Regions from separate parts of the Homo sapiens genome. Here all the other regions are reported to be linked to region 1. The links are microRNA targets in miRTarBase. Many come from high-throughput screens and were not tested one by one. Region 1 holds a microRNA gene; each other region holds the end of a gene's coding sequence.
Evidence for each region. Region 1 holds the annotated microRNA hsa-miR-335-5p (UCAAGAGCAAUAACGAAAAAUGU, at 2,276-2,298, shown strand). A microRNA usually pairs through its seed, bases 2 to 8, with sites in the 3' UTR of a target mRNA and lowers its output. Matches are read on the target gene's strand: a 7mer-m8 pairs with bases 2 to 8, a 7mer-A1 pairs with bases 2 to 7 and ends in A, and an 8mer does both.

Region 2: miRTarBase lists SRL as a target of hsa-miR-335-5p. The part of its 3' UTR that is shown has no 7-base or 8-base seed match.
Region 3: the mRNA of MFSD6L is a reported target of hsa-miR-335-5p. The part of its 3' UTR that is shown has no 7-base or 8-base seed match.
Region 4: miRTarBase lists RGS18 as a target of hsa-miR-335-5p. The part of its 3' UTR that is shown has no 7-base or 8-base seed match.
Region 5: the mRNA of LMCD1 is a reported target of hsa-miR-335-5p. Seed matches in the 3' UTR shown: 7mer-A1 at 254-260.
Region 6: miRTarBase lists TEX101 as a target of hsa-miR-335-5p. The part of its 3' UTR that is shown has no 7-base or 8-base seed match.

What each region holds. Positions count from the first base shown.
Region 1 is chr7:130,493,851-130,499,154 of GRCh38, forward strand. It overlaps MIR335 (microRNA 335), which reads left to right and starts at 2,261; the gene lies at 2,261-2,354. MEST (mesoderm specific transcript) reads left to right here. Exons shown (of 12, transcript NM_002402.4): 2 at 1,518-1,672; 3 at 3,306-3,385; 4 at 4,086-4,163; 5 at 4,289-4,425; 6 at 4,569-4,627.
Region 2 is chr16:4,187,429-4,192,732 of GRCh38, forward strand. It overlaps SRL (sarcalumenin), which reads right to left. Exons shown (of 6, transcript NM_001098814.2): 6 at 1,946-5,304. The coding sequence ends at 4,725. Among named protein-coding and RNA genes, the nearest start is that of SRL, 52 kb to the right of the region's middle.
Region 3 is chr17:8,792,575-8,797,878 of GRCh38, forward strand. MFSD6L (major facilitator superfamily domain containing 6 like) reads right to left here. Exons shown (of 1, transcript NM_152599.4): 1 at 4,536-5,304. The coding sequence ends at 4,786. Among named protein-coding and RNA genes, the nearest start is that of MFSD6L, 4.1 kb to the right of the region's middle.
Region 4 is chr1:192,184,121-192,189,424 of GRCh38, reverse strand. RGS18 (regulator of G protein signaling 18) reads right to left here. Exons shown (of 5, transcript NM_130782.3): 5 at 3,610-5,128. The coding sequence ends at 4,871. Among named protein-coding and RNA genes, the nearest start is that of RGS18, 28 kb to the right of the region's middle.
Region 5 is chr3:8,566,830-8,572,133 of GRCh38, reverse strand. It overlaps LMCD1 (LIM and cysteine rich domains 1), which reads right to left. Exons shown (of 6, transcript NM_014583.4): 6 at 1-4,694. The coding sequence ends at 4,536. It overlaps LINC00312 (long intergenic non-protein coding RNA 312), which reads right to left and starts at 352. Exons shown (of 1, transcript NR_024065.3): 1 at 1-352.
Region 6 is chr19:43,417,288-43,422,591 of GRCh38, forward strand. It overlaps TEX101 (testis expressed 101), which reads left to right. Exons shown (of 6, transcript NM_001130011.3): 5 at 591-719; 6 at 881-1,310. The coding sequence ends at 1,110. Among named protein-coding and RNA genes, the nearest start is that of TEX101, 5.0 kb to the left of the region's middle.

The DNA of each region.
Region 1 (5,304 bases):
TAATGGTTTTTGTCATCTGACCTTTCAAGGAGATACTGGGATACAGCCTGCTATTGTTGGGTGAAAACTGTGATATAACCATCATGTTCTGGCACTTTTTTGAACCATTTCTAGTATTACCTTGAGAAGTAGGACCAAATGGTTCTATCCGTCTTATGGACAGGTACTTTGGAGAAAAAAAGAAATGACTGCCCTAATAATGCCTAAAAAATAGCCTGGGGAGCTGACATTGTTTAAGAAACATGGTTATTTTACCACTGTAAAACCACAGGCTTGTTTTTAGATTTTAGCAAAAAGTATCAGGGATATGGGGGGGAAAAGTATCTTGTAAGTTGAGGAAGTTAGCGAACGGGTAGGTAGATTACAGGCAATAGGGAAGAATGTGTGTACAGACGGAAAGCCATTTCCCCCAGGGCTTTAGCAATTAATTTATTTCAGCTCTATGACAACTCTAATTTTAGTTTTGGAGGGTATTATTTCCATTCTGGCTGTTTTGAGAGAACTTCCATTCTACTGACAATTCTTGATCTGTTGACCATCAGAAGTCATAGACTTGAAACAGAACGGTTTATAATTCCTGTTTGGCACTCCTTGTCAATGTGGATAAACTGACTTGTGCCTTTGAAGTCCTGGGCATGGGAGGGTTGGGTGTACCAACCAGTGCTCTTTTTCCAAAGACAAAATCAATTCTCACACGCTGGGTATGAGTTATGCCTTATCTGGGGGTGGGGGAGCATCTTAGGAAATTAAATGGAAACTTAAAGAGTCTGCTAAGAAAAGCAGAAATGTAATCTACCGCCTTGACCTCTCAAGAGATTAGATATTCAGGGTCATGACAAAGCTGCTTATGTTGGAATACACAGTGCAGCTATCTTACTTTCACAGACTGTTTACCCTGAGCAGTTTCTCAGCCCAAATCCAGAAAGGAGTACTAAATGGGGCTTCATTTAGGCAGGAGGGCTGAAAATCAGGAGTAGCTCTCTGCTTGAGGACATGTGATAAGTTACTACACACACACACTCTTTAAAACATGAGATATAGCACATATATATTTTTTGAACATTTTACTGGTTGGGGGTAGTGGGTAGATGGTAGAGCTTTTGGAGTAAATAAGAAAGAAGTTATTTTTTTCCTGGGAAGCCTTGATAAAAGTCAACGAAAGAGTGTCCAGCATTTAAGTCATGTCCCTTTTATTTATATAAAGTCCTCTTCAGCAGGTATTGGGAAGACCACAAGGGTAGGGGCTAAGGGGTTAAAGTCGGGGAGCAGAGGCAGAAGATTATATGTTGAAATAATGTATTTTTTTTCCTTAAGATTAGAATGATGAACAAATATGGTGAGTGCTATGGCAGACAGAGGTTTGATTATAGTCTCGGTCAGCTTTGTGCCTATGTGAAGGGCAATGTAATCATTGCATGGTAACAGCAATCTCCCACCCCATCTTACCAGGTTTTGGTTTGTAGATGAGTGGACAATGTTACCTGACTGCTTACAGTGGGTCTCTGCTTTTCCTACAGGATGAGGGAGTGGTGGGTCCAGGTGGGGCTGCTGGCCGTGCCCCTGCTTGCTGCGTACCTGCACATCCCACCCCCTCAGCTCTCCCCTGCCCTTCACTCATGGAAGTCTTCAGGCAAGTTTTTCACTTACAAGGGACTGCGTATCTTCTACCAAGGTAAGAAGTGGACTATTGGAAGTCCTGCGTGTATCGGTCACATAAGTCCCAGCTGAGGTATTTATTTTGTGGCTATTGGTCTCTTGTTGCTCCTTAATGATGGAGGAGAGTATCTCTCTCTCTTTCTGTGTAGTGTGCTTGCAGAGAAGCGCAGAAAACTGCTGGGAGAATGGGGGTAGGGACTGAGATTCCAACCTGCAGACCTTACCTTTTAGTATAAGTTTTCTTTGTAGCTTGATATGTATTCCAATATTAGTTTTTTTTTTTTTTTGAGCAACCTGTCAGGTAATATATAAAATATTAATAGATATAACCACCATTGGTTCTCTCTCCTTACCATCCCTGATTTCATTTTTTCTGTAGATTATTTGTAGTGTAACTGTGATTTAAGTCTTGATACCATTATATAAATTAATTTGCTAGTGATGATGATTATTATGACCACTACTTATCAAGTAATTACCATATGCCAGGCACTGAGTTATGTTTTCAGCCTTCATTGTTTAATCTTTACAACAGCATTTGGAGATAGGTGCCATTAACCTCATTTTATAGGTGAAGAAACTGAGAAACAGATTGGAAATGATTTGTTTTGAGCGGGGGTCAAGAGCAATAACGAAAAATGTTTGTCATAAACCGTTTTTCATTATTGCTCCTGACCTCCTCTCATTTGCTATATTCAATTAAGTAAGTATACAATTTTTATTATGTTGGCTTGGGTTACTTCCAGTTTTACTGTTTTAGAAAACTAATGTTGAAGTAAAAGCTTCATGTCCATACAGTTTATTTTTTCCTTACATTTTCAAACTATACTACTTGTATAAATGGAATGATTTTATTTGCACAGATTCTCAAGAACAAAACTCTTAGGCTAAAGTATATACAATTTTTAACTGCTTCTAAATTATTTTTGAAAACCTTATTACCAAATTTTCATGTCACTGGCAGTATATGAATATACCTGTTCTAATCCCATACTATTAGCAAGGTTAATATTGTCTAAATGTTTACCTAATTTAGATGATGCTGAATGCTTCCATATTGTCATATGCATTAAAAAAGTTCATGTTTATGTTGATTAAGCCCTTTTTATAGTTGACAGGATTTTGTAATAGTTTTATTATGTTTTTGATGTTAGATTGGGTCTCCTGCTGAATAAAAAGTGCTGAGCAAACAGCATAAGCTAAAGGTGTTCCTTGGGAATAGTTGCTGTATCTTAGAGAATTTCTGTGAGGCCATTCATGATAAAGTACAAAGAATTTGTAGTTTATGTGTTGTGATCATATGCTTTTAACTGAAAATTTACTTTTCACTGAAAAAATTTGCATATTACAGAACAAAAGGAGAAATGGGGAGATGCTGTTTAAAAACACCTAGGTGAAAGTAAACAAGGTGCCTTCAAGTATTTTCACATAGCATGATTTTTACAATGTTTTAATATACAGATTGAAAGGAGAAAAGGCCTGTTCTCACCTAACGCAGTTAAGCTTACATTTTACAAATAATTGTGTCATTTTAATGTCAATTTGGTCACAGTTGCTTGTTCTTTGTATCAGATTACTTAGATTTTAACATCTTCGAGGTTATTTTTATAGGGATTTGGCATAATTGATTGTACTTTCCTTCTTCCTAGACTCTGTGGGTGTGGTTGGAAGTCCAGAGATAGTTGTGCTTTTACACGGTTTTCCAACATCCAGCTACGACTGGTACAAGGTAATGAAGTCAGACTTCTACGTCCTACTATGTCTTAAAAAATCTCGGCCGGGCGCGGGGGCTCAAATCCTAGCACTTTGGGAGGCTGAGGTGGGAGGATGACCTGAGGTCAGGAGTTTGAGACCAGCCAGGCCAACATGGCAAAACCCCATCTCTACTAAAAGTATAAAAATTGGCCAGGCATGGTGGCACAAGCCTGTAATCCCAGCTACTTGGGAGGCTGAGGCAGGAGAATCGCTTGAACCCGGGAGGCAGAGGTTGCAGTGAGCTGAGATTGCACCACTGCACTTCAGCCTAGGTGACAGAGCGAGAGTCTGTCTCAAAAAAAAATTTTTTTTTAATAAAAATTTAAAAAACCTCAAGGATTTTGTTGTCAGCACCAGAAGGCTCTTGCACATTTGAATTGCTTTTAAAAAAACATTAAATGTTGAACTGTTCCTTATTTACTGAAGGGAATAAACAACTCCTTGGCACTCTGGAAGGGATCACTGCCAAGTTACCCTCCCTCAACAGGGATTAATTACCAGGAATAAAGCATTTTCCAAGAGGATCATCTGTGGGACCTGTGGTAGTTTCATGGCGTTTTCTCTTTATGGAAGTCTGTTAAGCCAAGATAGGGCTGAAGCTCCTGTGCAACTGTAGGTCTGGTGAAAGGGAGGGGCAGGAGCAGAAAGCCCAAATCATCGTTTCTTTCTTGTAGATTTGGGAAGGTCTGACCTTGAGGTTTCATCGGGTGATTGCCCTTGATTTCTTAGGCTTTGGCTTCAGTGACAAACCGGTAAGCAGCACCTATGTGGGGCTGGTGATGGGGTGTGGGGGCAGACGCAGACTATGAGGGTCAGGCTGGCAGAGAGAGCTGTCCTCATGACTTCATCCTGTGTATGTGGGCTTTCCTTTCCTCAGAGACCACATCACTATTCCATATTTGAGCAGGCCAGCATCGTGGAAGCGCTTTTGCGGCATCTGGGGCTCCAGAACCGCAGGATCAACCTTCTTTCTCATGACTATGGAGATATTGTTGCTCAGGAGCTTCTCTACAGGTCAGTGGAGCTTCAGACTTCAGCTTATGATGCTAGGAAAGTACATTGTTTCTGGACTGTTTGTATCCTTTTTCTCTCGTTTTCAGCGGTGCACTGGTTTAAGTTTGCTCAGCTACATGTGTGTTTCCTCGTCTCCCTTCTAGGTACAAGCAGAATCGATCTGGTCGGCTTACCATAAAGAGTCTCTGTCTGTCAAATGGAGGTAATTGCCTTGGCGGTAGGTAGAAAGTGGGTGTAATCTAGAAGGGCCATCTTTAGATACAGCGGCACCTAAATGGTAATCTGATAATATTTCAAGTAGACATAATTAAACTATGGGATCTCTACCTCTTCTGTGCCATCAACTCCTTTGGTGGTCTGACAAGATTTATGGACCCTTTCTCAGAATGTTTTAAAATAAAGAAACAAACAGCATTACAAAGGATAGTGACTTTACTTACATAGTCAATAAAAAGCTGCATTATAGTCACATGTGCTTTTTCAATGCATTAGATAGCAAGTTCTAGTGGAGGACCTAGTAACAGCTATATCAGAAGGAGTGAGGAGTGTAAAGACTGTTTGCCATATCTGAAACAACTGCAATAGGTTATGAGAGTGTAGGATTGAAGATACAGAAAAAAGCCACAAGTGTTTCTAATACTACTATGATGTTAGTGTAGAAAATCCTTACTTAATGTCATCAATGGGTTCTTGGAAACTGTGACTTTAAATGAAACGTTATAATGGAACCAATTTTTTTTCTCATCAATGTTTTAAAGAAAGGATGTTATTCAAGGACCTGCTGTACCTCATTCTGCTTAAAGCCGAAGTTTCCAAGAACCTATCCTGATGTTAAGTGAGGACTTAACTGTATGAGATTCCCCAACTCCTAACTGATGG
Region 2 (5,304 bases), not on the chromosome of region 1:
CTTTTGCATATAACCATGTGTAACCCCCATGGATTCAGATGATACATCCACTTACCCTTAAAAATACTCCATTCATGCCCCTCACTTTATCTATGTTTATCCTGGTCCCGGATTGTGCTTTCTCCGTTTTCTGTTTCTGTTTCTCTATCATCTTAATGGCAGACAATGTGAAGATGGTGAGGCTTGTGAAACAGTACAATTTTGAGGCAGATTCTGGCATATTACTTAACATTTATCTTTAAAACAGTCCTCCTTCTTCCAGGCAAGAGCTCTGGATTTCTCCCGGGAAAGGGTGGAAGAGGGACGCAGGGTTGGGTGGGTGAACAGGAGTGGCCTTAGTTGGGTCATGTTGCTCAGTTGCTCAAAGACCAAGGACTGCAGACTCTCCCTTTCTCCCCAGGGCCCAGTTTTTTCCCTTTCAAAACCCGCTGTCTACCTGCAAGATGGCTCACATCTCTAATCCCAACACTTTGGGAGGCTGAGGCAGGAGGATGGAATAAGGCCAGGAGTTTGAGACCAGCCTGGGCAACATAATGAAACCTCATCCCTACAAAAAAAAAAAAATGTTTTTTTCAATTAGTCAGACATGGTGGCATGTGCTTGTAGTCCCAGCTACTCAGAAGGCTGAAGCAGGAGGATTGCTTGAGCCCAGGAGGTTAAGGCTGCAATGAACTATGATCGCGCTACTACACTCCAGCCTGGGTGCCAGAGCGAGACTCCGTCTCAAAAAAAAAAAATGGGTAGATGTGGTGGCTCAAGCCTGTAATCCCAGCACTTTGGGAGGCCGAGGCAGGCGGATCACTTGAGGTGAGGAGTACAAGATCAGCCTGGCCAACATGGTGAAACCCTATCTCTACCAAAAATACAAAAATGAGCCAAGCATGGTGTTATGTGCCTGTAGTCCCAGCTACTCAGGAGGCTGAGGCAGGAGAATCGCTTGAACCCGGGAGGCGGAGGTTGCAGTGAGCTGAGATGGCGCCACTGCACTCTAGCCTGGGCAACAATGCGAGACTCCATCTCAGAAAAAAAAAAAAAAAAAAATCGAAAACAACAGAAAACCAGCCGGGTGCAGTGACTCATGCCTGTAATCCCAGCACTTTGGGAGGCCAAGATGGGCAGATCACGAGGTCAGGAGATCGAGACCATCCTGGCTAACGCAGTGAAACCCCGTCTCTACTAAAAATACAAAAAATTAGCCGGGCGTGGTGGCGGGCGCCTGTAGTCCCAGCTACTCGAAAGGCTAAGGCAGGAGAGTGGCGTGAACCTAGGGGGCGGAGCTTGTAGTGAGCCGAGATTGCGCCACTGCACTCCAGCCTGGGCGACAGAGCGAGACTCCGTCTCAAAAAAAAAAAAAAAGAAAAAGAAAAGAAAACAACAAAAAACCTGTTCTCAAGCAAGATGTGAAACTCCTTCGAAGACCCCAGAAGTAAAACATAAAAATTAAACGACCTCTGCTCTGAAGAGGATACTAGAAACAGGAAAATGTGATAGAAAGGGCTCAGGGAGTCAAGGACGCGTTCAGGTTTCTCTAAAGACAGGTCCAAGCGGGAGGCTCACGTCCACACTTCGTGGAGGAGGAGAACACTTTCTGGTGAAGCCAAGGGGAGGTGGCAGCCTTACCATTCAGGAAACCTTTGTGCCCTCCTCCACTGGAGCCCTCAGTTATCTAAGGCAGCTGCGTGGATGCCCAGGGGAATGAGGCATTGAGGTGCTGAGGAGAGAGCAGTTCTTTAAGTTTCAGAGGACACCACGCCTTCCTGGGCGGCTGAGAGAGCAACTCAGCCTCAGTCCCAAAAAAGGTCCTGGGGCATCCAGCTAACACAAGGGTGGGCAATTTCTTAATTTCCAGTCTCTCCCCAAGGAACTTACACATGAGTTAACTCTACCAGATAAAAGGAGGATGAAGAGAGTAACCTAGCTGGAGACCATGAGAAAGCACGCGGTGTTAAAGAGAGATCGGAACTTTATTGAGACTGATGAAATCAGAACCAAAAGAACACTGGAAAGGTTCTGCCACTGTCCAGGCACAGATCCTTCCAGACACTCCTCTTGGGGGAATCTCTGGATCATTAAGTTTCCCCCAGTTCCTAATCCCCCACCCCAAAGAGTCAGAATTCTGCTTAAAGCCCCCTCCACGGAGCTGGCCAGAAACCAGACACTGAGTATCTGTACTGACTGATGGGCAGGCCTGTGAGCAGCAGAGACAAGAGAAATCAGAGAAGGAACACGAAAAGGAAAACATGACGGAAAGAAAAGCCCAAGGCAGGGAGAGCATGCTGATAACGCAGCCCCCTGAAAATATAAATATTGCATGAATGTATTAGCCTCATCCCAGCCATTTCCCCCAAAGCAGTGGTGACACCAACAGCTATGACAATGCCCACACAGTTGTGCATCTTTTTTTGTTTTTCCCCTGACTACACAGAAAAACAGATCTGCCAAAGCAGCTCACAGCATGGAGGAGCAGGCAGGGGAAAGTGGGAGGGCCCATCCCCCAAGAGGGCAGACAGTACAGAGATGAGGCGAGGGGTTCTGGGGTTTGCGGAGGGTGGTTAATGAGAAGAAAAGTCCAGGACAGATTCCATCTCATCAGCCCCTATCACAGGCTCCGTGGATGCCCCTTGCAGAACTCACTGTTCTTTCCTGGTCGACTCGTTCCTTGGAAACATTGTCCTGAGTGCCCTGGAACCTCGGGTGTTCTTGTGGAAGGGTCCAGGCCCTCCACAAAGCCAAACGCAACGGCCCCTGTGACAGCATGCACCAGAGTGATAACAATTCTGAGAACCGGGAATTCCTAACTCGAGGTTCTCCTCATAGACCTAACCTGACTGCCAACTGGCTTACCCTGCCTGACCTCAGAGTGCCTCTCCCTCTGCCTGCCTTTCCACTGTCCTGGGTCCAGGATGACTTCCTGGTGCTGAGCTGGTGCATCCTGACTCCTGCCTCGTGGGTAAGGCCCCCAGGACAGCTTGTTCCCAAGAGAAGCGGCTGGCTGTGTACAAAGGAGCCCCTCGAGGCAGCCCGGGCTGGGTCTCCTGGGCATGCACAGACTGTGCACCATGCACATTTCACCATCCAAAGGCTGCTTCTTCCCTGCAGGTCCTGCCCCTCTGCTCCCCACCACCTGCTGTGGAGCCGTGCATGCTAGCCTTGCAAGACTGTTACAAGTTCTCTACTCCCTAGAGTCTATGTGATCTCCCTAATCTCTCTTGGACAACATACACACATATTCACACTTATTGGTATTGAAGGCCCTGGCTTTCCTGCGGTGTGTTCAGTGGACATCTGCATCAAGGTCAGGCGGGAAGGTCAATGTTAAGCCTTGGTGGCCACCGACACCGAGTGGCTGGTGCTGGTTCTGACTCCTAGGAAATTGCTCCAAGTAAGTGTTGATGCATCAGGGAATGGAGAAGAAAGGAAAGGAAAAGCCATGGTGTGGAAACTGCAAAGGAGCAACTCCGCTGCCAAGTGTTTCCACAGGGGAGTTGTGGAAACAGCCTCCTCTGAAATTTGAGAGACTGGCGGCCTAAGGAAAAGGAGCAAGGTCTCCACTGTCCTCTCTGAAACCCAGCGCCTTTGGGATCTGAGTTTTCCAAGACATGCAATAGACAAAGACGCACTGCAAACCAATTAACCCTCTGAGCCCTTCCACGACCTTCACTACAGTCACTTCCAAGAGTAAATTACCTGGATACACCAACCAGTCCCCTCCTGGGTCCGATGAAGGGATCGAGCCCTCGAGCCAGCTTTGAGGAACACATCAGAGAAGTGGCAGTGGGGGAGGCAGATCCTTGTCCTTCCTGGGAACTCCTGTTCTTAGTTGTCGAGTGTCCTAAACCACTGCCCCACCCCTTGAGGAAACCAGGAGCAAGTCCGGGGGATTGGCTCAAAACCCAGGTGGAGGCCGGGTGCGGCAGCTCATGCCTGTAATCCCAGCACTTTGGGAGGCCGAGGCGGGTGGATCACTTGAGGTCAGGAGTTCGAGGCCAGCCTGGGCAACATGGTGAAGTCCCGTTTCTACTAAAAATACAAAAATTGGCTGGGCATGGTGGTAGGCCTATAATCTCAGCTACTCAGGAGGCTGAGGCAGGAGAATCGCTTGAACCCAGGAGGGGGAGGTTGCAGTGAGCTGAGATTGCACCACTGCACTCCAACCTGGCCGACAGAGCGAGACTCCGTCTCAAAAACACAAAAACAAACCCAGGTATATTCAGACCCAAGAGACTATTCACTGTTGAAAGTCAACCCAAAGTTAAGAGGCAGCCGAGGGCTGGGGAACAAACGCGAGACTGTGGGTGTGGAAAGAAGCCAAAATGGACCTGACAATCTCTACGACTCAGGCCTTCGCTGTTTTCCCAGCTCACAGGGAACAAAGGAATTTCAGCTGCTTTTAGCTTATTTGACCCTCACTGATTTAAGATACACTAGAATTTAGCTGCTCTCTGTCCTTCCAAGACAGGACCCAGGAAAAGCAGGTGGAGGCTGACTTGCCTCAATCAGGCCTCCTCATTGAAGCAACAAGACAAGCACACAGGAATTCACAGTTTCCACTCTCCTCCCTAGACCCACACACCTGCCCCGACCCCTGGCCTCAATGAACTCCCAACTCTCCACTGTGTAATAATTCCTGCCAGTGTGGCTCAAAGGGTTAATAAACCAGGACCTCTCAGACAGTTAGGACACAAGCTGATTCACCAACAGGAACCCAAGGACCGCTCCACCACCTAGTGCTTCCTGTAGCGATTTTTTGGTGTTTCGCTACACCCTGTTTTGTCACAGTTGAGAGCACCTGGATTCTTCCCGAGCCCGAGGCTACCCAGGAGGCCCGGAAGCTCCTGAGTGATGGCCCGCTCAATCTTCTCCAGAAAGCAACCTCCCATGTAGGAGCACTGCTGGGAGAGCAGTTTGAAACTGGAAATGGGATTGATGCCGAAGAAGTCCTTATAGGCCTCGCGGTTGGGAAGGTCAAATTTGCTGACATTGGTCTTTGCCAGGATGGTCTTGAAGATGTAGAATTTATCGGGATCTTCCACAATGTCCTTAAAGACCAGTTCTCCATCACTGAAGAAGGTCATTTTGTCCTTGTAAGTCTGCAGGTAGCGGTCAACCAGGAGGGCGTGGATGCGGACCCGGATGGCGTGCTGGCGGATGAAGGCAATCTTGTTCTCCAGTCTGTTCTCGATCACCTGATTCAGGTCTTCTAGGAGGGAGATCTCTTCTTGGAGGAACAGTTCCTGATGGGTGTCCGGCTTATACTCTTGTGGCCAGAAGGAGCTGACGTAAACCCTTGGGGGCTCTGTGACA
Region 3 (5,304 bases), not on the chromosome of region 1:
TAGTCTTTAAAAATGCAAATTAACACACAGTGACAGAAAGTAGATCAGTGGTTGCCCGGGACCAAAATGGAGCACGCTACGGAGGAGGGATTATAAAGGGCAGGAGGCATTTCACCGGTGTTTGAATATGTGCAGTTTATTATATGTTAATACCTCAATAAAGCTACTTAAAAAAAAAAAGCTCAGTGTGGCCTCTTATGACCCTGACCAGAGCCCTCCATGGCTTATCCAAAGTCTACAGGATCAAGGCCTTTCATGACCTGGTCCCATCTGTCTTTCCAGCCTTGCATTTAAGCACCATCCTACACAAATCCTTCGCTTTAGCCAAACTGTATGTCTTGCTACCCTCCAAGTATTCTTCATGCTTTTTCCACCTCTGCAGCTTTGTTTATATAGTCATAGAATGCCCTCTCCTAGGTTACCACCCTCACTTTACCTGTTAAAAGTTTACCTACCCTAGGCCGGGCGCAGTGGCTCGCGCCTGTAATCCCAGCACTTTGGGAGGCCGAGGTGGGCGGATCACTAGGTCAGGAGATCGAGACCATCCTGGCTAACACGGTGAAACCCCGTCTCTACTAAAAATACAAAAAATTAGCCGGGCATGGTGGCGGGCGCCTGTAGTCCCAGCTGTTCAGGAGGCTGAGGCAGGAGAATGGCGTGAACCCGGGAGGCGGAGCTTGCAGTGAGCCAAGATTGTGCCACTGCACTCCAGCCTGGGCGACAAAGCAAGACTCCATCTCAGAAAAAAAATAAATAAATAAAACAAAAGTAAAAATAAATAAATAAATAAACTTTACCTATCCTTGAAGACTTAGACTTAAATATAATCTCCACAAAACCTTATTTGAGTTATTGAGTCAGAAATGTTCTCTTTCTTAAACTCTAGTAATACTTTTTCTGCAGCATCTCCCACACTGTCCTGTGCTTCCGTGTGTGTGTGTGTGTTGTGTGTGTGTTTGTGTGTTTGTGTGTGTGTGTAAGTAAATCTTCTAGTTAGACTGTTAGCTTCTTGAGGGTGTGGACTGTGCATTTTATTCATCCTTGAATTCCCCATGGCAAGTAGCACAACTTTTTTTTTCCCCTTTGGAAAAAGGGGCTTCATACATTAAAGAAAACATAAAGTCAAACATTAACTAAATAGCCCAAATGAACATCTTGGCCTCCCATCCTTCCCTTAAAATCTTTTAGATCCATCAATCATCACCTCCCTCAGTCTTCGGTCTTGTCCTGTACACCCCCTCCCCCCAACTCACGCTTCTTTTTCTCTTCCTTCTTCCTCTTGTTCAGGCTAGATCACACTTACTTAACTCTTTTCTTAAGCCAGTTCCTGTTCCTCATCCTTTTGTTTAAGAGGACATACATGTGTTTGCTTTTTGGTATTATTGTATGTTCTGTTGAAATAGTAAATATTATCTACTATCCAGTCAATTTCAAGTGATGGCTACCTTAGATCTTAATATTTAATCCCCCCCCTCTTTCCCCTCAATTTCTCCAGCATAGAGCACAGTGATTAAAATCTCAGGCCCAGGAACCACCAGGCTGGATCTGAATACCAACTCTGCCACTTACTAGCTGCGTGACCTCAGGCAAGTTACTGAACCTTCGGTTCTGCCATCTGAAACTGGAGATGCTAATGGTGACTACGTCCTATGATTACTTGATGAGCTAGTACGCGTACACCACGTACCTTGTTTAGAACAGTGCCTGGCCTAGAGTGACCACTCAATAGTTGTTATTTGTTTCACTGCAAATGGAAACATTTGGCAAAGAACTGTTGAGACAAATAGAGCTGGAAAGGACAACCGAGTAAACAGTGCTTGGTTAACCACATCAGAATCACTCGGAGATTGCTCCAAAAATGCAGATTACTGAGCCCCACCTGTGAGATTCTGGTGGAACCCAGGAACCTGGCTTTTTGCAAATGCTCCTCCTACTTGGATCGACAGCCAGACTACCGGCACAGAAGAAAATGCCCCAAATTTGGAGTAAGGAAATCCAGGACTCTGGTAGTATTTCTGCCAGTGACCCAGTGTGTGACTTCTGAGACTACACTTTCTCATTTGTAAAATGCAGATAACAAATTTGATTTATTCATAGAGTAGTTGTGGGGGTCACATTACTAAAGTCATTTCTGTCGGGGAAGCTGGCTTAGTGGGGTGAAAGGAATGCAGGCTTTGCAATAAGCTGGACCCGGCTGTGAGTTCCATCGTGGAGGCCGCTGCAGATGTCGTTAGTTGCCAATTCTATATCCAGCCCCCTCTTCCTAACGCAACCCTGATTTTGCTTGGTGTGTAACTGTGCCTAGTTGAAAATACTTCCTCCCAGACTTCCTTGCAGCTGGGTGGCCATGTGACACGGTTCTCTCTGCTGAGGAGTTTCTGGGAAGGCTTATCTTTCCTTTTTCTTGTTTGTTTGTTTGTTTGTTTGTTTGGAAACAGGGTCTTGCTCTGTAACCCAGGCTGGAGTGCATTGGCACAAACAACTCACTGCAGTCTTAAACTCCTGGGCTCAAGCTATCCTCCCACCTCAGCCTCATGAGTAGCTGAGACTACAGATGCACACCCCATACCTGGCTAATTATTATTTTTTTTTAAGAGACAAGGTCTCACCATGTTTCCCAGGCTGGTCTCCAACTCCTGGGCTCAAGCAATCCTCCTGCCTCGGCCTCCCAAAGTGCTGGGATTATAGGCGTGAGCCACCCACCGTGCAGCCTATTTTCTTGATACAGACACTTGTTCCTGTTTCTCCCTTTGCCCTATTGTCTTCCCCTTTTCTTACTGCCTGGAACATGGATGAAAGGCTTGGCAGAGCAGCAGCCATCTTGTTCCTATGAGGGTACAAATCTGGGAGGGTAGCTTACAGGCTGAGTATGACAGTGTGAGGAGATGAAAAGATTCTAGATCCCTAGTGGCATCATCCAGCAGTGGCAGCATCTCTGGGCTGCCCACCCCTAAATGTTTTATATATATATGAGACAAATCTCTATTGTTTAGGGTGGAGGTAATTTTTTTGTTGATTATTTGTACCTTAAACTTCTTAGGGAGAATTAAAAAACAAATAAAGGGCCAGGTGCAGTGGCTCACGCCTATAATCCCAGCACTTTGGGAGGCTGAGGCGGGCAGATCACGAGGTCAGGAAATCGAGACCATCCTGGTCGACATGGTGAAACCTCATCTTTACTAAAAACACACACACACAAAAAATAGCTGGGTGTGGTGGTGCACGCCTGTAATCCCAGCTACTTGGCAGGCTGAGGCAGGAGAATCGCTTGAACCAGGGACTTGGAGGTTGCAGTGAGCCGAGATGGCGCCACTGCACTCCAGCCTGGCGACAGAGTGAGACTCTGTCTCAAAACAAAACAAAACAAAACAAAAAAACAAACAACAACAACAACAAATAAAGATCCTAGAACCATGTCTGACCCAGTGGACATTCATATATCTGCTTCCCCTTCTCCAGCTGTGAGACGTTTTCTGCATTTGTGCAGTGAGGCTTCTTCTAAATTCAATATCCTATGTTTAACTAATGATAAGGTCGAAGAATTGGGCCCTGGGACTGGCCTCTGAAATAAATGGCCCTTTATTCCAGGCCCTTCCCCTGGGGGAGTTTGGGAAGGCAGAAGCACTAGTTTGTCACTCCCAAAACCCCACCAAGTGCCTGGGCACAGGTACAGCATGGAGAACCTATAGCACCCTGACCTATGGAGATGTCTGCACCCCAATAAAACAGATGTTAAAATCTCCATGTGCTTTGTGAGGCAGAGCATGCAAAATGTGAGTTCAAAAGACATGAAATTGCCCCTGCTCTGATGTAAATATAGATGATGATTCTAAGTGGGACACACATGTGTGAGAAGGTAAGAATGAAACCTATTAACCTCCCACTTCCCCCCCAACACACATACATTTCCCATTATTTTCTCCTGTTGGAAGTACTTGGGTGTGAGTGTGGGCACCTGTATACCAGTGGGAACAGAAAGGAGTTTGTTTTCATTACCATCCTTTTTTTGAGATGGAGTCTTGCTCTGTCACCAGGCTGGAGTGCAGTGGCATGATCTCAGCTCACTGCAACCTCCACCTCCAGGGTTCAAGTGATTCTCTTTCCTCAACCTCCTGAGTAGCTGGGACTACAGGTGCGCGCCACCACGCCCAGCTAATTTTTGTGTCTTTAGTAGAGACGGGGTTTCACCATGTTGGCCAGGATGGTCTCGATCTTTTGACCTCATGATCCACCCGCCTCGTCCTCCCAAAGTGCTGGGATTACAGGCATGACCCACCACGCCCGGTCCTCCATTACCATTCTTACCTGCCCACAGCATGGCTTTCACAGAAGCAGGCTAATGCCTTTATGACCCCTGGGAATGCCATGATTCATCCAAGTCAGCTGCCCTCTCTGCCAACTGAATCCTGCAGGTCCCCATGGTCTTCCTGGCACTGACAGTTTGATTTGATCGCTTCAGCCATTGCTGAATTCAACAGCACCTGAGTCAGGACTTTTGCAAACCTTAAACGTAAACATATAGTGACTATAGAGGGAACTTTTTAAAAAGCAAATGTATTCTTCCTCCATTATCTAAAAAAGATTGGCAAAAAGTTAAATCTCCTTTTACTTCAAAAGTAAAGAAAATCATGCAATGAGATGATCCTGTTGGGCCTTCAGCACAGACCCATCCTCTCTTCCCCGGCTCCCAGCAGTCCAGGGCAGGTTTCTGTCCTCAGCAGGCTGAGTTTTGTTCAGTCCATTCGTTCCTTGCTGGATCAGCACACTCTGGATTTCTCAGCCCTTTCAGTCTGAGTGTTCCTCCCTCATGGCCTTCACAAGCCAGTCCTGTTCTGTCCCCTGCTCAGAGTCACTGGTGTCACTCACCTCCATGGACAGCAGCTTCGAGTACTTGATTTTCCGCTCTCGGGGCAGCCTCCGCTGTATGGACAGGAGCAAGGCCAACCAGAGCAACAGGGCCACACAGCAGGCCTGGTAGAGCACAGCCAGGCTGAAGCGCATCACCACGAAGCCCCCGACAAAGCTGCCCAGGCTACAGCCACTCCCGTAAAAGTGGCCTCGGAACAAGGCACTCAGAGCCCTCTCCATGCGGGGAGTGGCCAGGTCCTCTACTGAGGCCCCCACAGCCCACCACAAAGCTCTGTTGCTAATGGCACTCAAGATCTGAATGGGGAGGACGGACCACCAGCTCCAGAGGAAAGAGTAGTACAGCAGCTGCCCAGCGAGGCAGCTCAGCCCCAGCCCCACCAGGCCCGTCCTGGACAGTTTCCTAAGCAATGTAGCTTTGAACGGATGAAGCAGAAT
Region 4 (5,304 bases), not on the chromosome of region 1:
CTTTCACAATTCTATCAAAAATTTACTTCCAAAGCCTCTATGTTAAATAATTTTCTATTAATGTAACTTGAATACATTTCTGGGAGCTTGCATTCTAATGTGAGTGATGCTCATTTATGAGATCAATTCCGGTTTCTAGAGATTGAGATTTTAAAGCAGATTTCAGTATGAATATAGCAATTTAATACCTAATCCTATATTATAAAATATACTCAGACATATTGTGAAGGCACAGCAACATGACTCTGCTGTTTAGCTACGTTGCATGAAATTGTCTTGCCATTTTTTAGACACAAGGAAGTCAAGATATATTATATATCAATGTTTCACATGTCATAGTGAAATGACTGATTTTTGTGTTTGCCTACATAGGAACACCGTTCATTTAAATACTACAGTGATAGCCTTTACATTATTTTATTTGTCTTTGTATCACTACTGTTCCATATAGTGACTGGGACAGAGGTGAAGCATGGCAAACATTTGTTGAACTACAGGAGTCTATGATTAAATAACGATAAATGAAGTATAAGATATTCCAAACTATGGATTATTAAATACATTTATTCCTGCTATCATTGATACTGATTTGATCTCACTTGGATTCATGTTTCAATATTTCAGTTTCTTTACATGTAACAACAGTTCCATGTTGAAAAAATGATTGTTGGGTTTTACATGTTGATGGCAATCTTTCCAAATGTTTTTTATTCACTTTCTTGCTCTAGTAAATTGCATCCAATAAAAAGAATTTTGACACTTTTTAGTGGATCAACATTTAACAATGATTCAGTCTTCATTTTTCCCACAATTTTATGTTTTTTACAGATAGATAACACAATAAAAAATAATAAGACTGTAGACAAACTATTTAAAATTTAATACTGTTGTTTTAGCAAATGTCTGACGTTTAAAATAGTTGCTTTGCTTATTACTTCTAAAAGGTTCATTTCTACTCTATAAAATTTAGTAGGTAAGATTCCAGGTAAATGTATATGTTTACTATTAAATAATTATGTCTAAAAACACAGCTGAATCTGATTTTTAAAAAAATTTTCCAAATGTAATATTTTACTACCTGTGCTGCTAAATTTGTATTGTTTCCCAAGTGATTTAATTTTGTAAATGTTTCTTAAAACTTGTGTTTTTTCATCTTCAAAGGACCCTTCTATAATTGGTTGATTTATAGAGCAAAACCAATAAAATGACCAAAAAATTCAAACCCATAATAAAATGTATTTATATATACATATACTTTCAGTTCCTCTTTTGTTTTATAAAAGATGCACAAAGATATGCAAGTTAGTGAATCTTTTGTATTGTCCTTAAATAAATGAGGAAATTAGTTACTTAACTCCTAGCTTCAAAAGATAAATGGTAATCTGCACGATTGGTCGTAGAAGGATTTGTTATTTGGGATACATACGAAGAAAAGTTTAAAACATGGCTTTCAGCTGCGTATTGCAGAATGCAAGCTTTATCAGACAATATACTATGAAGAGAGTTTTTCTTTCTCTCTCTTTCCCTGTCACTCCCACTGTTAAATTCACTTTTGAATGCTCAGAAGCTAGCAGTAGCAATCAAATGAAAGTGTTCAATAAATACTTGTTGATTTATTCAAGTTATAGAACATGAGTTTTGATAAGTTGTACGAATTTTTATTTTTATTGTTGAAAAGGCTTCAAATGATATAGCTAAATGAACGTGGTTACATCTGTGTTGGTAATTTTTTTCTTTTTTAGACAGATGATAAAGAGCCAGGAAATTAAATATAAGACCAGCCAATGTGGCACAATGAAAATAAATTAGTCTTTTTAAATTTAGTTAATGCCATAGCTAAGGCTTAGCATCTGATGAGGTGGGGCGGGGAGAGTATACATCTTCACCATGCTTTGTCTTTTTTTTCCTCTTAAAGAAGATCTGCACTGCACATAACTAAAAAGTTAAGGGTTTTTTTTTAAAAGCTTTTTCTTTAGAAAAATGCTTATGCTTAAAATGTTCCCATATTTTAATTTAGCTAAAATATCATTTTTTATGAAGTGCAAATTATAAAAGTTTTGATGAGAGCAATAGTCATCCCCATACTTTAGTCAAGCAAAATCTCATTATTCTCAAAGATATTTTTTGATTTGTAACCAAGGCATTATTAGAAAAATTTATATTATAATTAAAATGTGGTACTTAAACACAGGGAATACTTTCTAAAATCCATCCACACACTAAAGTCAGTTAACACTGTAGCTGGCACTTTGCAAATATTTACAATTTAATCACCATAAGAACACTGTGAAAATTTTATTCCAATATTACAAATAAAAATTGAAGATAAGAATTTAGGTAGCTTTCTCAACATAGTACACTTGGTAGCTAGTAGAGATAGAATTCAAATAAAAATGCACCACATATTAAAGACTTTACTCTTTGCTGAAATACTACTCTGACTTCCTTTTGATTTCACTTGACTTTGCAATCACTTATTGAACTTTTATTATGTACATAACTTGAAGCCTAGGTATTTACTATTGCTTATGGGCTTCAAAAAGTGCCCCAAATTATCTAATTCAACCCAACTTTATTTATCATCCAGTACTTTAAAGACATTGTTATCATACATTTGACTGGTCAAAAAAAAAATCAAGCTCTATTTCCTGTGACTTCTTTCCTTTCATGTATTTCTGGGTTTTCTATAATCTTGTGCCCTATTCTTAGACAAAAATCCCATATTAATTTTTAATCTTAAGTTTTCCTTCATTAATTATACTTATTTGCCTCTTTTCCTTACTTGGATACAAGTCAAGGTTTGCTTCGGAGAATATCAAGTGAACAAATTAGAATTAATGAGTGTGGAGACCATAAAGAACACTAGAAAGTAGAAATCCTGAGTCTTTATCTTAAAACGAACGTGGATGGAAGAGTCCTTAGAAGTTATATAAACTTTTGAGGATCCCACATCCAGTTAGGGGGCTCGCACACTGAGGCTTTCAAGTCTAGTTTCAATTTGTGCGTTTTGCCATCATTCAGCCAACACTCAGTGCTTTCTGTGCATCTGTGCTTGGCTGCTTTCAGTTGTCCAATTATTTATCTTGTTTCTGTATTTGTCCATGTTGTCTCCTCCAGAGAGTGCAAACTTTTTGAAGTCAGTCATTAATTTTATGAAGAAATCCTGGTATGTTTTTGAAGCATCTCATTGAATATTTCATAATTTAATGAAGAGATTGGATGATTTTGGACAGTATTACATACGGAAAAGCTACATGATACATATTTGTGGTACCAGAACAATGCTATTAAAATCAGCCCATGATGTTTCTGATGAGATTGCAAAGTTTGTGTCGAGTCTTAAGTCTGTATATGAAACAATTAAATTCTATGGAAAGAGACTGCCACAGAAAAAGAAAATAGGAATTAACTAAGGAAAACATAAAAATCACCTTTTTAGTTGATTTTTGAAACCCAAGATACTTTGTTTTTATATTCACAACAATTTAAACAACTGATATAGCATTAAGATCAATGATACAATAACTCAATTAATACTTTCTATCCCAATATTACTCTAAAAGAAGAAAATGTTTATTCCTTATTACATAATAGGAAGGATAATCAACATTCAGTCAGAGCTTTTATTGTCAGATAAACTTAACTGTATGAATGAAGTTAAAAATATTTATTACTACAAATGATCTAAAGTTTTCACATTTTACATTTCAACTAACATTAAATTTCCAAAGCCTAATGCATGGCATTTTTAAATACAAATATTTACAGACCATGTAACACACATTAAAAATTAAATATCTCTTTAAAACAGTGACATATAGATGTATGAGTATAATCTTATTTGAATAATAATTACTTAAGGAGATTTGCTTAACAAGAATATAATCAATGAGATAACACTTTCTGAATATGAACCAATGTGGCAGATGCCCAAATCGCTAGGGCCTTAGACTCCTTGCTTCTTCCCCTCATCTCATTTCTGATTTCTACCCCAATTCTAAAGGGCCAAACATGAGACGTCCTGGGAAAAACCTTCTCTGGTTTTTATTCAAGCCATTGATGGCCTAATAGTTTAGTAGCAAGTTTTCTTAGCCGGTGATAAGGTAGTCTACTTAGTTCCCTACCTGGAGATATGCAAAATCTGGTCATGTTTCTGTGACCAACAGAAGTACTTTGTATAACTGGGTACGTCCATGTTCACTTAGGAATGAGTTCAAATGTGGATCTTATTCTCAGTCATTAATCTAGATTATATTTAATCTGAAGTTCTGTAGAGATGAATGTGTCTTCACAAAAGTTCCTGTTGCTGGCTTATAACTAGAGGTGATATTACTATTCTTGGGACAGGGTTAGTAGTAACCCAATAATAAATGTTCTTCATCTCCCATTGTAAGAACCAGATCACTTCTACACTATTACCAAAAAAAAGAGAACATTCATTATGAAAAATGCTATCTGAACATTTGGATATCTGAGTATTATTATGTTTATATAACACATATTATGCTGCTTTGGTAAAAAATCCCAACTAGACTTTTGTTTGAACTTTTGACAACTTTGCAAAAGCTTAACTTTTACTTAACTCTACAATCTTATAAAACATTATTACTTTTTTTGTACTGCCTTTTGATTAAGAAATAAGTTTTTTTTCTGATTATAAATGGAATGACATCAAATAGAAGGTTTTACAGAATATACTGGCAGATACTGTATGTATTTTGTTAGCAGAAAGTTTTGTTTTTACATTTTTAAAATAATTTCACATGACATATTTCAGTTTAAAGGATGGGACCAAATCTTAACATAAACATGCGATATGTTAGAAGCAGATGTATAAGTTTGTCATAAAAATGAGCAAAATCAATTTTCTTTATAACCAAATGGCAACATCTGATTGTACATCTTGGAATTCATTGCAGGTAAATGAGCGTGATCGTCTCCTAAGATTTGTTGGTCTCTGAGGTCTTCCTTCCATCAAGTCTAAATAGATGTCAGATTTCAGAAAACGTGTATAACTGTCTTGTTCCATGAGCTGATACACTCTGCTTTGTGCAGCATCAAAACTGTGGAGGGTAGGTTGAGTGATGCTGTTTGTAATGACTTCTTTTGTGTGAAAATCAAGGTTAACCTGGATAAACAGAAAAAAAGTGTGATTATAGTTAATATGCTTATATAAACAACTTTGAGAAACAGCACAGGACTGATGCAATGTTGGAGTGGGCATCTTGGGCTTAGAAGCAGATATAGTTTGGATGTGTGTAGCCTGCCCAAACCTCATGTTTAATTGTAATCCCCAGCATTGGA
Region 5 (5,304 bases), not on the chromosome of region 1:
AGGTCATGAACATTCAGGAAAGAACAAAGAACACTTCCAAATTGAAGAATAGACAAGATAACTAAATAGAATGAGTGATCTTAGACTGAATGTTTTTGTTATAAAAGACATTATTGGGACAGCTGGTGACACTTGAATTGGATCTGAGGATTACATGGTAGAAACACATCAGCGTTAACTTCCTGATTTTGATGGTTGTATTGTGGCTATGTGGGAGAATGTCCTTATTTGTAGGAATTACACACGAAAATATTCAAGAGTGATAAAGCATTGTGTCAGCAACACCCTCTAATAGCTCTTTGTTCTCTTCTTGTAACTTTTTTCGTAAGTTTGACATTCTATCAAAAGAAAAGAAAACAACAGCAGGGCTATTTACTGCACAGTATCTCCTTTCATTAAGGAAAAACACTTTTCTAAGACCCTCCTAAGGCGGAAGCCCCACTGGCTGGTAATAGAGGCGCATGGCCTTTCTCCAGCTGCAGACCAGGTTGGCAAAGCCAATTTACATAAAGGGGAGTGGGCTCTTCTCTCAGTCCAGTCGTTTCTCTCCATCCTCCCTTTGTCTCCATCCCCAAAGTCATATCTCACTTTGAACATTTTCTGCTCAGACTGACAAGTCTCCCTGACAGGAACTCACCCTCTCCACCCACTGCTTCCTTGCCACTAGGAAGAAGGAAGTGGGGTGTGGTGGCAATGTGTAGGCTGCCAGCAGTGTCTACCTCAGTCTGAAATTTTTATATTTGACCTTGGCCATTTTGGAACACAGTGCCATCAGCAAAGACGAACCATCCCAGAACCCCAGGTTGTTTGTTCTTTCATTTAGTTGCCAGGATTTGTACTAAGAGTTGGGGAAATAAAGATAATACGATTATTCTTTAGAAGTTCATAGGGGAAGGCTTTCATGAATAAATAATTATAGCACAATAAAGGCCTTGGAAGAATTACTGTAAGCCTGGGATATTATGAACTTACAGATAAAGGGCACCTAAAACACCCCAAGGGAAGGGTGAGGGAGGAAAGTCTTCCTAGAGAGTGGGAGGGGTGGGGATGGCAGCCCCTCTTCCTGCTGACATGGGAGATAGAATCAGGCAAGAGTTAACATGGATCTTTCCAATTCTGGTACAGAATCCCACTCAGCTATTGCAGCCCCCCAGCAGAGGCAGCAATTAAACACAGTGTGGGGAATTGCAGGCAAAAAGCACAGCGTGAGTGATGGTACAGAGGTGAGGAAAGCAGGGGCACACACTGTGACTGTAAACTGCCCATTTGGCTTCTGAAAGGATAACAGGAAGGAAGGAGGGTTGGGGCAGGAAAAATAAGAAACTCGACTGCAAGGTAAAACAGTTTCAATTTTTTTCTGTGTGTGCAACAGGGAGCCCCTGATTGTTCTTGAAGAGGAGAGTGCAAGATGAGGGTGTGTTTCTGAGCAATTCATCTGGAAGTGGTGGGTGGAGAGGGTGAGTTCCCGTCGGGGAGACTTGTCAGTCTGAGCAGAAAATGTTCAAGGTGAGATATGACTTTGGGGATGGAGTGAAAGCGAGGATGGAGAGAAAGGACTGGACTGAGTGACCCATCAGATATGAAGGCAAGTGGCAGAGATGATTCAGGTGCTCCAAATGCAAGGGTGGGTGTCATTAATAGACATGAGAAAGGCAGGGGCAGGTGCTGGGTGGTGCCCCATGGGGACTGTTGTGGGAGATAATGCCCATCCATGATGGTGTGACCCAGTGGACCAAGTCAATCATGCATTGTGCTGGGGTTTCAACAGAGAAGAGATGACGTATCTCATGATCTCCCTGTCCAGCCATCACCACCCCCTCCTTAAAGCTGTTTGAAGGCTCCCCCTTGCTCCTAGAACAGAGACCAGTCTTTTGAATTGCCCCAGAACTGGAGCAGGCTGGCCATGCCTGCCTCTCATGCCCCAGGCCCACCCTCCTCACCATGCTCTGTGCTCCTGCCACACCAGTTTTCTTTCAGTTCCATCCATGGGCCATGTTCACCACTGTATCTCCAACACCAGCAAATAGGTGTTGAATAAACTGGTGGGGCTTCCACCACAGGGCCTTTGCACATGCATTCATGTATCCATCTTTAACCATTGTCCTTCCTCTCTTTGCCAACTTAGAGGCAACCTATCCTTTTTTTTTTTTTTTGGAAACAGGGTCTCACTCTGTCACCCAGGCTGGAGTGCTGTGGCATGATCACAGCTCACTGCAGCCTTGACTTACTGGGCTCAGGTTATCCTCTAGAGTAACTGATACTACAGGTGTGCCACCATGCCAGATAGTTTTTGTATTTTTTGTAGGGGTGGAGTTTTGCCATGTTGCCCAGGCCGGTCTCGAACTCCTAGGCTCAAGTGATCCACCCGCTTTGGCCTCCCAAAGTGCTGAGAATACAGGCCTGAGCCACTATGCCTGGCAAGGCTACTCATCCTTTACAGCCCAGTTCAAGCATCACTTTCCCAGGGGCACCTCTCTCGATATTCCTAAGTCCAGTTTACATGCATTATAGTAACACAAATCTTCCTTTTATAGCATGCACAGTAGTGTAATTTTGCATTGACTTGTGAGAATATTTGCTTGAGGCCCATCTCCCCCACAGACCGTAACATCTATGGGCGTAGGGGTCACTGTTCTTTTTGTGCACCCCGCATCCCCTATATTCAGCATGGGAATTGGAACTTTGCCGTGCTCACTGAAATACTTGTGGAATGGATGAATGAATGATGAATTGGTGAATATTTCACTGGTGCTTCAGGAAAGTGCCAGAGAAGCAGGTTATGCTTGAGAAGCACCTTATAGGATGAATAGAATTTCAACAGCCAGAGTTGGTCTTCAGGTAGCCAGTCTTCAACTAGCAAAAGCAAAGGGAAGGGCTTGATCAGAGGGAGCTTCTGCATGCTTAGGAAGAAATAGGGAACTAGAAATCTAGGGAAATAAAGGGCTCCAAGGCCAGAAAGACATAAGCCAAGTTTTGGAAGGATTCAAATGTCCATGAGGACTTGGTTGTTAACTTGGCAGGCAATGAAGAGCCATGGAGATTGAGTGAAGGAAATGACACACTTGAAACTTATCTTTGAGAAGATGAACATGACGAGGAAACTGAGGGTGACTAGAGAAAGGAGCTGGGAGCAGAAAACCACTGCCTTGGGAGGATATAGCAATGGCTTTGGTGAAACTTATAAAGCACATGAATGGGGGTTTTCTAGGTACGAGATGGTCAGAGTGAAATTTGGATGGTGAGGTTAAAGAAAACTGGCAGCAGATGAGGAAGTTCAAGAAAGAAAACCACTGGCGACCAGACCGTAAGCTCCTAGGACTTGTGTCTTTTTCATCCTTATACTCCCAGTAGAAAAATATGTTTTTCTTAGAAACTGTGGGAAAGAAATTAATTTAAGAGCTGAAAATGTTCAGAGAGACCATAAAATGGAGATACAATTTGGCCCAAAGACCTATTCTACGTGACTCATTCAATGTTTAGTTGGCAACATTAAAAATTGAGATTTCTCATAAAAGTGGCATTGTTAAATTTTAGATTAATTTTTATTGAAAAAATTTTGTTTCTGATTGTTTTGGCATTTGAAAAAGTGCTGTATTTTTAAAGATCTGCCCACATTAGTCACCACATCCCATGTGGCACCCATTGGTGGAGCTTAGGTGGCCCCTGTTCAGTGGTTTCCCAGTACTGGTCTTATTCCCAGAGGGGTTCATTCGCTATTTTCCTGGGCTCTGAGGGCAGCTGAGTCAGGTCCCTGGCTAAAGAGAAGCTCATCAGTTCCCAGCAGGCCACTTTTCAGTGTACCATAAAACATGATACCTTTGTTACATTAGTGATCTGGGAGTATCTGGAATAGGCAGGTGGGGCGGGGGTTCTGTCCCAAAGCCTACACTCCCAGTGGAAGTCTGATGAGATACATTGATAGAGAGGCTCATTAGTATTTTACTATATTTTCTGCCAGCACTGGGTGTTGCAAAATCACTGCCATGGTGTAAATAATTAGATAAGGGTGTATGTGGAATTCACAAAACTTTTATTGATCTGTTTATCATGCCAAAAAAAGTTGTTTATTTAAAATTCAAATTCCACTTGAAAAAGAGGCAACAAGCGATAGTTGGGATCCCAGCCTGCTCCTGGAGGAGCTCCTGTGTCCACAAAAAAGCACGCACATTCTACAGCTATGCGATTTGCTCACTCGGAATTGCATTCTGGAAAACTCCTCCCAGAGTCCCCTTGCAGAACGCCATTTGTGTCTTTAGTTGGTTGTAGCTGGGAAACAACAACAGAAAGAAAAGGAACTCCATCCTAAGACTTCTTAGAATATTTTTGGTTTTGAAACTACTGACCCTCAAGGATCTACCACCACCCAACCTAGAATATATATCTATATATATCTCATATATATATTCTCACTGAAAAGCAAATCATTGTTTATTTCACTTGCTTGCTGTCACATCGGACCCTTAGGATGGTCTCGGCACACCTGGCTCTCCTTCTCGGTGGGATCCTGTGGATTCTGGCTGTGGGTGGGCAGCCCTTCAGGAGCGTTTGGACTTGCTGCAAGTTGGGCACAGAAGCTGACCCTTGGTGACGATGTACGCCCGGCCGCTCAGCAGCTGCTCACAACCCTCACAGACAAAGTGCTTTCGGTGCCAGGCCAGATCTTCCACACGCTGGTAGTCCTCAGCGAATATTATCTGGGGAGGGGAGCAGGAGAAATGCATGACTCAGTTTCTGTCCCTAGGTAGAGACGGTATATCTAGGACAAGTTATAGGGTGGTGGTTCATCCCATCCTATTCTTGTTTTGACCTTTTAAAGCCTTAGTGGAAAAATCTGGCATAAATTTGAGGCAGTAAGGATAATATTTGGTGAAGGTTGTGGTTGCATCTTAGCTTCTCAGACGGAATAAAAAAAATCCTCCACTACAGGCAGGTTTTACTTATCTAGGTATCTGTGATACTCTTTGGGTCAAATCTAAAGTTTAGTTCCAAGGTGGGATTACACACCCTGGTGAAGAAAGCTTAAGGATAGATAAACTGCCAATGGCCAATCATCAAGAGCAAGAATACAGAGGGTCACTTGGGCTTGGAATGAAGTGACACTTGGAATAGACATATTGTAAGGATCCCCTGAGGCTCAGGAAGTGCAGAGGAGCATAATGTTTAATGGGCCTTCTAGTATTGGAGTCAAACAAGAACTGGGTATGAGTTTTCACTTAAGACATCTACCAGCTTTGTGACTTTGGGCAAATTACTTAATCCCCCTGTGCCTCAGCTTCCACATCTGTAAAATGGGGATATAAATAC
Region 6 (5,304 bases), not on the chromosome of region 1:
GATTCTGGCCATAAAAAACAAAAACAAAAACAAAAAAAACAGATCAAAGAAACAGCTGGGCCTACAAGCTGAATATGAGTCGTGCAACTTCTCACAATTCCCTGAATCCACCAAGCTGGCTCACACCACCTGACCTTTGTCCTTGCTGTTTCCTTTACTACCCTCCCCACCCCATTTTCACATAGCTAACCCCTGTTCATCCTCCATGTCAATTCAGGTATCAGCTCTTTGAAAATATTTGCCAAATTCTTTTAGGTAGTTGGGTATTCCTCCATTCCTTTGTCATTATACCTTGAACACAGCAGCTACTGAATTGATTACTTACATGTCTTTCTCCTAGGCAGAGATGCCAGGTGACAGGAACTATGTCCTTTTCATCTCTGTATCTTCACACCTCAGCAGAGTTTGGAAGTCAGATCGATGGAGATTTCACAGCAGAGAACACCAGCTGGGGAAGGATGGGGAGGCTGAAGTAATGGGCCTTGATTAGAGTGGCATCTGCAGGAAAATCTTGGGGAAGAGAAGGCAGCAAGGAGCAACATCTCTGGAGGCAGGACCTGCCCTTAACTGTCTCTCTCATTTCCCTCCAGCTTCCACTGTGTCAACAACCCTCCATTGTCCAACCTGTGTGGCTTTGGGGACCTGTTTCAGTGCTCCTTCTCTTCCCTGTCCCAATGGTACAACTCGATGCTATCAAGGAAAACTTGAGATCACTGGAGGTAAACTGAAATGAACATCTGATAGTTTCAGAGGCTGGAAAACCATTTGAGTGGCTCCCCAGAGATTCTGACACTGAGCTCTCCAGGGATGAGGGGGGACTGGATTCTCCTCTGATGTCCTAAAACATCTCTGTCTCTCCCGATCCTTCCTTGTTCTATAGGTGGCATTGAGTCGTCTGTGGAGGTCAAAGGCTGTACAGCCATGATTGGCTGCAGGCTGATGTCTGGAATCTTAGCAGTAGGACCCATGTTTGTGAGGGAAGCGTGCCCACATCAGCTGCTCACTCAACCTCGAAAGACTGAAAATGGGGCCACCTGTCTTCCCATTCCTGTTTGGGGGTTACAGCTACTGCTGCCATTGCTGCTGCCATCATTTATTCACTTTTCCTAAGAAGGCACTTCTGGGCCTGGGTCTGAGGACATCTTTTTTGACTGGGAGCCTTCTTACTGTTGAGGTTCAACAAGCTGAGGAGTAGATGGGAATTTGAGGGAGAATACAGAGATACTATGAACGTATTTGACATTTTTAATACAATTTCTGCTATAATTTTTGTATGCAGTAGGCGTTACTAATAAACATTTCTGCTGTGATTTGTGTATGTTTCAACACTAGAAGTGGAATTTTAGTGCTGAAAGAGCCTTTAAAATTCATCTTCTCCAAACCACACATTCTCCAGAAAGAGAATCTGAGATCTGGAAAATTTCAGTGAGTTTCTTACATTTAGCTATGGCCAGAGCCAAGGCAAGAACTTACATATTTTGACGTAAAGTCTGATTTTCCTTTCACTCTAATATGCTAGCTCTCCTTGCTAGCAGAAGTAACTAGCATTAGCCTCCTCCAGAACACTCCCAGCCCAATCTTAAGGCTGCTGTTTTGGGGTTCTAAAATTTCCCTAGGAAGTATGGCCAAATGAGAAAAATCAGACTCCAAATTCTCCAGTTATGGGCCTGCTGTAGTGGCTTATACCTGTAATCCCAGCACTTTGAGAGGCAGAGGTGGGAGGATTGCATGAGCCAAGGAGTTTGAGACCAGCCTGGGCAACCTAATGAGACTACATCTCTACAAAAAAAAATAATCCAAAAATTAGCCTGGCATGGTGGCGCTCGCCTGTAGTCCCAGCTACTTGGGAGGCTGAAGTGGGATGATCACTTATGTCCACAAAAAGAGTCAAACTCTGTAAAATATTTGAAAAGATTTATTCTGAACCAAATGTGAGTGACCGTGGTGTGTGACACAGCCCTCAGGAGACCCTGAAAACGTGCCTAAGGTGGTCGGGGCACAGCCTAGTTTTATACCGTTTAGGAAGACATGAGGCAATCAAATACATGTAAGATGTACATTGTTTCAGTCCAGAAAGGCAGGACAACTCCAAGTGGAGGAAACTTCCAGGTTATAGGTAGATTCAAAAATTTTCTGATTGGCCATTGGTTAAAAGAGTTATTATCTAAAGACCTGGAATCAGTAGAAAGGAATGTCTGGGTTACGATGATAAGGGATTGTGGAAACCAAAGTTTTATTACACAAATGAAGCCACCATGTCGCAGGCTTCAGAGAGAATACATTGTAAATGTTTATCAGACTTAAGGTCTGTGTTGATGTTCATGCTGGTCAGCTTTTCCCAAAATCCAAAAGGGAGGCGGGTATATTGAGGCATGGCCGACTCTCCCTTCCCACAGCATGGCCTGAACCAGTTTTTCAGGTTAACTTTGGAAAGCCCTGGCTGAGAGGAGGGGACCCTTCAGATGGTTGGGGGCGGGGAGTGGCTTATAATTTTATTTTTTGTCTGCACTTGAGCTCAGGAGGTTGAGGCTGCAGTGAGCCATGATCATGCCTCTGTACTTCAGACTGGATGACAGAGTGAGATCCTCTATCAAAACAAAAGGCAAATTCTCTCATTACAGTGGGCCCCATTTCTCTGTGTCCTGTCTATCCCTTGCCTGCTCTACATCATTCCTTCCCTTCCCTGGGGCTGACTTAATGACTCTTCAGTGGACTTGGGAGGGAGGGAGGAAGGATTCATTACAGTATGGTGAATGGGGACCTGTGACTACTTGGGCGGCAAAGATTTTTGGAAAATTCTCATGCTTATTATTACTCAAAAATACATAAGCTCTATCTTATTGTAAAAGACTCAAATGATATCAGAGGTGTATAGAGCAAAGTAAAAGGTGGGGAGGGTAAAAGGGAGACAGATATTTTCTTCTAAAAAAAAAAAAAAAAACAGCTTTACTAAGACTTATCTGACACACAGTAAACGGCACCAGAGGTGGAAGGAGAGACTTTTATTACAAACACTTGTTCCCCTCTCAAAAGACTGGGGAGTTTGGCCATAGTATATATATTCCAACCAAGTTCTTTCTAGAAAGTTCTCTGGTTCTACCCACTGAGAAAGGGAAAAAAAAAATCTTGGGATACCAAACTCACTATGCTAAAGGGAAAAGTCAGGCTTGGGAATGGAGTCACACCAAACTGCCCCTTATTTTGTTCCTAAATATGTAGCTGCAAAGATTTAGAAGTCTACACACCTCCCCAGCAGGCCTTGCTCACAATTTGGCCACAAGGAAATTCCTTGTGGGCCCCAAGATCTTTACCCTAAAACAGTTCTGCTTGAGTTTCACCCTGGCAATGTAATTAACAGTTTATCTTCACAGGTACTGGACAAGACAGGACCAGAAGTCATCCCTCTGCTCACCTGAGACAAATGCCTATTTCACTCTTTCCTCTACTAGATGTTTAGTTTATTTTATGTAAAAATGCAAATCTGGCCAGACACGGTGGCTCACCCCTGTAATCCCAACACTTTGGGAGGCCAAGGCGGGCAGATCACGAGCTCAGGAGTTTGAGACCAGCCTGGCCAACATGGTAAAACCCCATCTCTACTAAAAATACAAAAATTTACCAGGTGTGGTGGCAGATGCCTGTAATCCCAGCTATTCAGGAGGCTGAGGTGGAGAATCACTTGAACCCAGAAGGCAGAGATTGCAGTGAGCTGAGATCCGGCCATCGCACTCCAGCCTGGGTGACAAGAGCAAAACTCCGTCTCAAAAAAAAAAATGCAAATTCACTGAGGGCAAGATGATTGCATAGTTGACTATTCCTCTACCCTCTCCTTTCACATGTAAAATGTAGATTCACTGAAAGCTGATCAAAGCCTCAAAAGAATGCAACCACTTTCCCTTTTTATTTACTCTCCTCCTTTTTTTCTTTCCTCTTTCTCCTATTGCCCACTCCTTTCCCCACTTTAAATATTGAAGTCCCCAGGCCGGGTGTGGTGGCTCATGCTTGTAATCCCAGCACTTTGGGAGGTCGAGGCAGGTGGATCACCTGAGGTCGGAGTTCAAGACCAGCCTGGCCAACATGGTGAAACCCCGTCTCTACTAAAAATATAAAAAATTAGCTAGGCATGGTGGCGGATGCCTGTAATCCCAGCTACTCGGGAGGCTGAGGCAGGAGAACTGCTTGAACCTGGGAGGCAGAGGTTGCAGTGAGCCGAGATCATGCCACTGCACTCCAGCCTGGCAACAAAAGTGAAACTTTCTCTCAAAAAAAAAAAAAAAAAAAAAAAATTGAAGTTCCCAAATCCTCTTTGGAAAAAGCACAGATCACAGATGTTCCTGTGGTTTTGTGTTTCTTTTTCCTGGGCATGTCCTAAACCTTAGCAAAAGAAACTAAAATAATTAAGACTCACCTCAATCATTTTTTTTTTATTTATACCACTCTCCTGCAGTTTAAGCGCTACTCTAGCTAATTCCTTATCTTTGTCCTTAGGTAGCCAGTCCCCATTGTGTCAGTTTGCTAAATCTCCCTAAAGAGGAAGAAGAAGCACACGAAAATCAAATTTTAACTGAGGGCCAGGTGCAGTGGCCCACACCTATAGTGCCAGCACTTTGGGAGGCCAAGGCGAGTGGATTACTTGAGCTCAGGAGTTTGAGACCAGCCTGGGCAACATAGTGAAACCCCGTCTCTACAAAAAATACAAAAATTAACTGGGCATGGTAGTGTGTGCCTGTACATAGTCACAGCTATTTGGGAGGCTGAGACAAGAGGATGGCTTGACCCAGGGAGGTGGACAGTTTGCTGAGGTCACGCCACTGCACTCCTCCTCCCTAGATGATAGAGCATGACCCTGTCTCAGAGACAGAGAGAAAGAAAAAGGAAGAAAGGAAGAAAAAGAAAGAGAGAAAGAAAGGAAGGAAGGAAGGAAGGAAGGAAAGAAAGAAAGAGAAAGAAAGAAAGAAAAGAAAAGAGAGGAAAGAAAGAGAAAGAAAAGGAAGGAGTGACAATGCCAAATTCTGGAGAGGAATTGAGAAACTAGATCTCTCATATATTGCTGTAAGAATGTGAAATGGTGCACCCACTCTGGAAAATAGTTTGGCCATTTATTTAAAAACTAAACACACACTTACCATCTACCCAGCAGTCATACTGCTGAGCGTTCATCCACAAGAAATGGAAACTTAAGTCAACACAAAATCATGTATGTGCTTGTTCTTAGCAGCTTTATTTGTAATAGCCCAAAATGAAAACAACCAAAATGTCTTACAGTAGGTGAATGTTAAACTCCACAATAGAAAGAAACAAACT